3 separate regions of the Homo sapiens genome follow, and regions 2 and 3 are each linked to region 1. Evidence: fine-mapped expression QTL. A gene starts in region 1. Each other region holds a variant in brackets. All regions are shown on one strand. Distances are from middle to middle. Region 1 holds the start of SPP1 (secreted phosphoprotein 1). Region 2 overlaps MEPE (matrix extracellular phosphoglycoprotein). Region 3 has its middle 17 kb from the start of MEPE.

Evidence for each region.
Region 2: its variant is fine-mapped to the expression of SPP1 in whole blood (INTERVAL, PIP above 0.99).
Region 3: its variant is fine-mapped to the expression of SPP1 in whole blood (TOPMed, PIP above 0.99).

Annotation. Positions count from the first base shown.
Region 1 is chr4:87,974,222-87,976,990 of GRCh38, forward strand. SPP1 (secreted phosphoprotein 1) reads left to right here and starts at 1,493. Exons shown (of 7, transcript NM_001040058.2): 1 at 1,493-1,579; 2 at 2,661-2,728. The coding sequence starts at 2,675. RefSeq lists promoters at 1-1,489, 489-1,576, 1,366-1,579, cis regulatory regions at 499-508, 724-732, 799-807, 1,245-1,260, 1,435-1,444 and 1 more and enhancers at 751-771, 1,134-1,633, 1,396-1,466.
Region 2 is chr4:87,839,051-87,841,819 of GRCh38, forward strand. All of the region lies in intron 3 of MEPE (matrix extracellular phosphoglycoprotein), which reads left to right. Among named protein-coding and RNA genes, the nearest start is that of MEPE, 7.5 kb to the left of the region's middle. The variant T/A (reference allele first, on the strand shown) is at 1,526.
Region 3 is chr4:87,848,267-87,851,035 of GRCh38, forward strand. No RefSeq gene overlaps it. Among named protein-coding and RNA genes, the nearest start is that of MEPE, 17 kb to the left of the region's middle. The variant C/T (reference allele first, on the strand shown) is at 1,580.

The DNA.
Region 1 (2,769 bases):
GAATTAGCTATACACTATCACTGCAAGACATTATTTAATCTATATTTATATTAAAAGTAATATTTGGCAAAAGGAAGCTGACACTTTAGGACTAATAAAAACCACAATTACTTTTGCAGCAACCTAATAATAAATAGGACCATTTATTTTTCATCTCAATTACACACAAGTCTTAACAATAAAGGTGTAAGGTAAATAAATAGTGCAATCTGCATTTCACAACTGAGAAAGCAAATGAAGATAAGTAATCTCAAGGCAATATTAAATATTTTAAAAGGACCCAGAGCTCTGCTATCCCTGAATTCTGCTCTAATATTCGGACTTTCCCTGTAATTTTCTTTCATTCAGACACCTTTTAAATACCTAGTAAAGTGTTTTTTAATACAGAAATTTTTAAAAATGTTTTTCTTTTTAAGTGGCCTACTTTACATACCTTGGGAGAAAAACTAGAAAAAAAGATGATTCCAAAATCGAATCTGTTCCTTTAGAAATGTGCAAAATTTCCTTATTGATGCATACAATTTAAAGATCTTACGTCTACTCTCATTTTAATAACCTGTTCTTTTAAAGGACATTACAATTCGTGACTGCCTGCCCCTCTTAAAAATTTCATAATAGTTAACACACATATAGTCCTTAAGATACGCAGAGCATTTGCATCTAATATGTGCTAAGCATTGCTAGTTTAACATACTAATTCATTTAAACCCCTCAAAAACCCCATGACCTAGGTAATAGTATTGCATTTCATGGATGAGGGAACAAGGATAGGTAGGCTGGGCGATTTGCCCAAGGTTGCACAGGTCAGCAGTGACACAGCGGAATTCAGAACCACGGTCTGGCTCCTGAAGCAGCCCTCTCAAGCAGTCATCCTGCTCTCAGTCAGAAACTGCTTTACTTCTGCAACATCTAGAATAAATTACCATTCTTCTATTTCATATAGAATTTTATATTTTAATGTCACTAGTGCCATTTGTCTAAGTAACAAGCTACTGCATACTCGAAATCACAAAGCTAAGCTTGAGTAGTAAAGGACAGAGGCAAGTTTTCTGAACTCCTTGCAGGCTTGAACAATAGCCTTCTGGCTCTTCAATAAGTACAATCATACAGGCAAGAGTGGTTGCAGATATTACCTTTATGTTACTTAAACCGAAAGAAACAAAAATCCATTCTATTTAATTTTACATTAATGTTTTTCCCTACTTTCTCCCTTTTTCATGGGATCCCTAAGTGCTCTTCCTGGATGCTGAATGCCCATCCCGTAAATGAAAAAGCTAGTTAATGATATTGTACATAAGTAATGTTTTAACTGTAGATTGTGTGTGTGCGTTTTTGTTTTTTTTTGTTTTAACCACAAAACCAGAGGGGGAAGTGTGGGAGCAGGTGGGCTGGGCAGTGGCAGAAAACCTCATGACACAATCTCTCCGCCTCCCTGTGTTGGTGGAGGATGTCTGCAGCAGCATTTAAATTCTGGGAGGGCTTGGTTGTCAGCAGCAGCAGGAGGAGGCAGAGCACAGCATCGTCGGGACCAGACTCGTCTCAGGCCAGTTGCAGCCTTCTCAGCCAAACGCCGACCAAGGTACAGCTTCAGTTTGCTACTGGGTTGTGCATTCAGCTGAATTTCATGGGGAAGTCCAAATTCTAAGGAAAAATATTTTTAATTGTAATGCTGTTAAACAGACTTAAATTTTCTAGCCTTTTTAATAAGCAGATTAGATACATTGCAGGTCTCCTGGAACAAAGGTGTCTAGATATTTTGAATGCCAATCAAATTTAAAACTTAAAAATACTTCCACTGGGTCCTCAAAAGAACGGAAACCACCGATGCTAATCAGAAAATAGTAAAATTAAATTCCCCTTTGGAATAATTATACCTATATAATTTTCAGTGGGTGACTGTGCAGGAATTTAAAAGAAAAGGGATCTTTTATGCTAATTAAACCAATTACAATGCTATTTTTTAAATGATGTATCTCACTTTTAAGGGGAAGAAAACCCTTTCTGAATATGCCACTGCTAAATTTAGCTGTTAAAATATTCACCAAGATACCTGTATGACACTGTGTAGGCTTATTATTACAAATAGAAAAGCTGTTGGCTATTTTCAATGTTTTCCTTTGAATTTCAAATTTTTAGAACATCTTACTTAAATAACAAATTTCAGAGATAGTTTGATTTCACCTAAGTAGCACCTACTTGATAATTAAGCTAAAAGTCACATTTAAAGTACATGTTGGAAAAATGGATAAAGCAAATTTTTTTCATTTTTTTCTGTGAGTTTTTTCTTCTCTAAAAAATATTCCCATACTAGCTTATTAATATAATTAAGTTACTGTTGATCTGTTTGTAGGTTTAGAGAGCTAGATATATAAGGTAGTAATGGTATAATTTCTGGAACTCTAAATTTTAAAGTTGAATAAATACAGACTTGCAAAATTTCCCTTTCCCTTGCCTAATAGTGAAAGATGGATAATAGGTGGCAATATAAATATTAACTTGAAAGACTATAATACTAAAAAGAAAAGGCATCTCTAAGAAGTAGAAAAGATTCTATAGAAAATATATTTTATTTGTGATCATTTTGTAATGTGGTAGTATAAAAAGGTATCACTGTTGTAACCTATGAAGATGTCAGCTATTCCTTATGAAATATTTTGCAGGAAAACTCACTACCATGAGAATTGCAGTGATTTGCTTTTGCCTCCTAGGCATCACCTGTGCCATACCAGTGAGTACAGTTGCATCTTAAAGAAAATTCCTGAAAATAAC
Region 2 (2,769 bases), 140 kb before region 1:
TAAATAAGGGAGTAAAGGGGAAGGTGGCTATCAGATCTGAATGGGGAATTCTATGTCCGTGGAGTCAGCTTTCCATATGCATCCAGTTAAATGAATCCTCCCCGCTTTGCATGCCACCAAATTGCAGCTTGCTTCTGCCTATCACAGAAAATTATGTTCTAAGAACTAACAATCTTCTGTACTTCATCTCAGCTGAAAATTACAAAGGCCAACGTTGCCAGCTTAAGAGCCTGAATGTTCATGCTGTGAGTTTTGCCAATTAGACATCAGACATGAATATTGTAAATCCTGTCTTTCTCCTGGTCCTCTCACCCCCTCCCACCTGAAAATATTTCCACATGCTCCATTTCCATAGACGTTTGGTAATAAAATCGATCCACCCTAGGACAGAAAGCAGTTGACAGGCCCTTAGGGAAAACAGATTTAGAGTTATGTAGAAAAGAGAAGGAACAAGTTGCTGTCTTCGGGAGCCGGCTGACACACACCCTCCTGTGGTTATAAGAAGTACTACCATTTGTCAGAGGTAGAATTCAACTTCACCCAACTTTTAAAGTTTCTTATATTATTACAAAGAGCCCAAAAACTTCTTTGTAAGAGATAAAACGTGCCTCAATATAATGTTGTGTTTTTGTAGATAACATACAAGGGTCACTATGAGAAACATGGGCATTATGTTTTTAAGTGTGTTTACATGTCACCTGAGAAGAAAAATCAAACTGATGTAAAGGTAAGCTGAATCTCTGAATGACCATTCTCAGCATGACTAAACTCTGGACTAGCCCTAGAGGAAAATGTAGGGGAGGCAAAGTTTACTTTTGCTTGCTCTGGGGTTTCTGTCTTATGGCTGGCACTTTTGTCCCTTCCCTCCCTCCCCAGGCTCCTCAAGCCTCTCTACTACAAAACTCTGGGTCCCAGAATCTTCCTGATCCCCATCCCATGCCTCGGCCCACATCTCGCTCTGCTTCAGGACCTGTGGCTGCAGGTGTGATACTCATGGACCTCAGGTGCCCATGGACTGCTGTGTTACTGCTTCTGAGTAACATTTGGTGTTTTATAAGAAAGTTTTCTTGACATATTCTACCATATGCTCTGATGGTGGGGATCTCAGCAGGGGACGGCTAAGAGGAAAAACCATTTTGGCCTAATGAGTGACACATTTTACTGTCTCTTAAATTCATTCTATGGATAACTCCATCTGTGTTGGGTTGCTCAGAAGTAAAAGAATGAGGCCCTTGTCACTACAATGACAATAATTCTTTTCACTCAGTCCCTTCTTGTAGATTCATCGGCCAAAGGGCTGGAAATAGCTTGAAATGCCATCAGCAAAAGGGCTATTTACTTTTTCCAAATCTGGTTTTATTTCCCATGGAAGTAATAGTTTCCCTTCAGAATGTTATTTTCTTCTGCCATCGATATCCTTTAGATGACATCTCTAAGACTACACCTAACTATAAATAAGTTAAAACATATCCATTTGCCAAATATATGTGGAGTTCTTAACTGGTGTGTAAGATACTATGTGAGA[T/A]AAAATGATGGAGAAAACAAATTCTTTCTCTCCAGGATCTTAGAGTTAGAAAAGAAACAAAAGGCACTTACAAAAATTATTGTAAAACAAGACAGAATGTGGGAGGTGCTATGTGAGTAGTACCGAGAAGAAAAAAAAGATCATGCTTTAAGGGCTTGGAGTAGAAAGAAATTAGTTCCTGGCCTCTGGTGTTCATAATGGAAATAATTGTGTGGGGCCATGGAGGATGAGTAGGATTTGAGCAAACAGAAGTGAATGGGTGAGGCCGTTCTCCATGAAAAAACTCATAGGAACCAAAGCATGGAGACAGAAAAGCAGAGCACAGAAAAGCAGCCAGCCAACTGGTACATAAACCATCGAACAGTCAGAAATCATTTAACACAAGCAAATGTAAGAAAAGTTTTTTTCTATTTTTTGATATTTTCTTCAATGCAAAGATAGCCATCATATACCACAGGATAAAAGTTGTTTCATGTTTTCATTTATAAAATTATTCTACTCAGTCTTCTAATAAAATGCACACAATTCATTAGTGTACATGTTACTTTTTTAAAAGCAGAGAAGCACCGAAAATAAAACATAACTTCCCACTTCAGACAAGGGAGAGAAAAAATTAGGAAGAGATTATTATAATCTACTGAGTTTAGATTTAGTGTTTAACTCAAAAGGTTATCTTAGTAATGAGTAAACAAACAACAATGAACTTGATTGCAAAGGAAAACATAAATGTCCAAGTAAAACTTTCCAGGACTCAATTACTCAAGTCAAATATTTAAAATACTTTTTATTTAGTGATATACTACAAAGTTTATTTCTATTTTTTTCTTATGGCAAAATCGTATTTCAGAATATACCCACCAATATTAAAAAATTAATGAACAATAATGCCATAACTTTTACAAATAAGTAATTTCAAATTATATTTTACAAATATTATACATTGGCACTTTTGCAGACCATATATTAGCTAGCTTCTTAAAAGTAGAGGGCACTTCTAAAAGCCATTTTTATTTTAGATTCAAATGTGAGCTGATTCAACATTTCCGCCTACTTCCAACAGTTAATAAGATACATATATAAAAGCAGACAGTCCTCCAAGCAGAACAGTACTTCTGTTTGGGAGTGAAAAAAAAGAGAGAGTCCAATCAAAATCTATTTCAGATAACATCCCATCGACGGCTACAAGCTTACAGAACACACAGCCCGAGGATGACACTTGGGCAATTCAAGAGCAGGGGGGTCCA
Region 3 (2,769 bases), 130 kb before region 1:
TGTGTATATTCATCCACATAATATGAATATGTGTGAGTATATGTGTGTTCATGAGTGCACACACACAGAGAGAGAGAGAGAAACTTGAAAGAATACAAAGTAGAATCTAAAAACAAGGAATCTTTTTTTCCCTCATTTGTTCCCTATCTTCTGGAAATAACAGGTCAGAATCAAGGGAAAGACTGAACATATCACCCAATGTTACCATCAGAATTCCAGAATAAACTATTCCTAGTAATTTGCTTTTTAAAAAATAAAAGACAATTTGGGGGAAAAAAAACTGGAGGCAATTAATGAAGTAAAAAAAAAACTCTATCAGAATTTAAATTGCAGATTAATAAATTGAAATCAAACTGCTACTTATATTTCAGGTTTATATCAGAGCTTTACATGCGAATGGTCTGATCACATAAAAACACTTGTCGTGGTAAAAGAAAAATATGAACTGATGGAGAAAAACGGATGCTTTCTTTGGGTAAATACAGATGGACCCTTCCAAAAGTCACCTGTCGTAGTCTGCTATCTAGTGGAGAAACTGCGTATTTCAATTCTCTGGTCCGATTTTGTTTCCTCTCTCTAAGCTTCAGTGTTCATGGATATTTCTTCAAAACACTGACAATGTTCATATTTTTTTCATCCAGTTAACAGAAACTAGAAGTGTGTTGGCATCCACAATGCATTGCTATTTGATGCAGACGTGGAGGAATTAGTCCAAACACAAAGGACCAGAGATCCACAAGGACAGTCAGTAGTCAAGAGTGAGGCCCATGCCTTATCCAAAACCATGTTTTAGCCATCAGGCTGCGCTAATCTCAGTTAAAAAAAAAATAGATATCTGTTTCTGAAATTGGGCAAAAAACTTCAGCCTCACGTAGCTGCCTTATAAGAGACGATGGAAATTGACCTAGCCTGCCACCTTGTGCTCAAAAAGAAAAGGTCACTGTACCAGTCTGCGAGCAGGCTCCGGTTCTGTTATTTACGTGCAGCCCTGGTACTCCCTCAAACCTCACCTTCCTGGACTTCTCTGCTTGTAAATATTTACCTTGATTTTACAATACTAATTAATCTGTTCTTGGCGCGTCTACCAGTCAGGGTAACATATCTGACCTTGTCTGAAATAACATTTAGCTCAGTTGAAAAGTATTTATTGAACGACCATCTTTTACAAAATTCTTTGGAGATCAAAAGAAGAGATGCTCTTGGTCTTTATCAAAACTATAAGTAAGTAGGGAGAAAGTCATACGAAAGATACAAGGCAGAATGTGTTAAATAATAGAAATATAAGTAAAGTGAGACAGGAGTTCTGAGAAGATGAACTCTAGCTGAAGGGAAGAGCCAGGAGATAGTAAAATCTATTTTACCCAACGTATTACACATGTAGAGAGGCTGCAGACAATAAGCCTCACTAGTACATAAGAGCTTCACAGTGGCGACCTTAAGTGATCCCATGTGTAGTTTAGAGCTTAAGATAGCTCTCCCCAACCAGTGGATGGGGAAGGAGTGGTAAGCAAGGTAGGGTTCAGGGGAGTTGGAAGGAAGAAGACCAGCCAGGAGGAAGTTGCTCAACAGACTTTCTCTG[C/T]GGTCTAGAATAAACATTGTGTTATCTCCTCACTCTGTCTTTAGGGCCTGCCTTTAACTAAGCAGGAGCTCAAGACAGCGTAAGTTTCAAAGACATTATGATGCTTTTACAGAAGTCCCTTTCAAAAACAACTTCTGTATGAGAAGGTAAACTCTGCTATTCAAGAGAATGATACTTACAGTCACAGGCATTAAAATATGGTATTAGACGGCCCAAAGGAAAAGGAGAAGAAATAGATGAGTCTGAATGCATGTCAGGAAGATAGGAATTGGGGGCTGAAAGAGAAAGGGGCAGATAAATGGTTAGAAAAAATTTAATGAGGAAGTCTGGAAAGAAAAGAGAACAAAACACCGATACAATCCAAATCCAGAAATCCAAATGAGAATAATGTCAAAAACAATGAGTGGACTCACGCAAAAGCTGCAAGAAAATCTACCTGAAGCTATGGTTTAGACTTTCGAGAATAAGAACAAGAGGATCTGTTTCATTAAACGAATAATACTTTATCAATTTGTAGGCATATGGTTTAGTGTAACACAGACACTCCCTGTTTAGAAGTGACTCTTGCTAGATTTGAATTTTAAGTAGATTTTTATAATTGTTAGGTTAACAGATTAATAATAGAAGTCAAACAATCTTAAATAATTTTTACTTAAAACAGCATCAGGAAGATAGAAGTATTAGGTTGGCTCAAAAGTAATTGCCATTACTTTTAATGGCAAAAACAGTCATCACTTTTGCACCAACATAATACTATGTGAAGAAAGAAAGTTGTCTATTTAGCAAAGAGGTAATTCTGAGCAGGCCAGCTGGGGCAGATCTTAGACACATTGCATTAATAAGTGAATGGAGTAATATTTGTGATATAAGGCCATGAACGGGGTCCAGGGATTTCCTTTTTTAACAGGTCCCTCAAATGATTTTAATGCAAGTCAAAGTTTGAAATCACTAATATGGATGTCTTTCCCAGTGACCTTCAAATCAGTCACCTGGGTCTCCCACAAATCTATAGCTAGTCCAGAACTTCCCCTGTATTAACCTACCATTGCAGGAATGTTTCAGTTTATGATGAAAAATAGCTTGTCTTTGTGGATTATCTTATATCAACAAATAATAAAAATATCATTTAAAGTGAACGTACAAGGCTGGGACTGGTGGCACAAGCCTGTAATCCCAGCACTTTAGGAGGC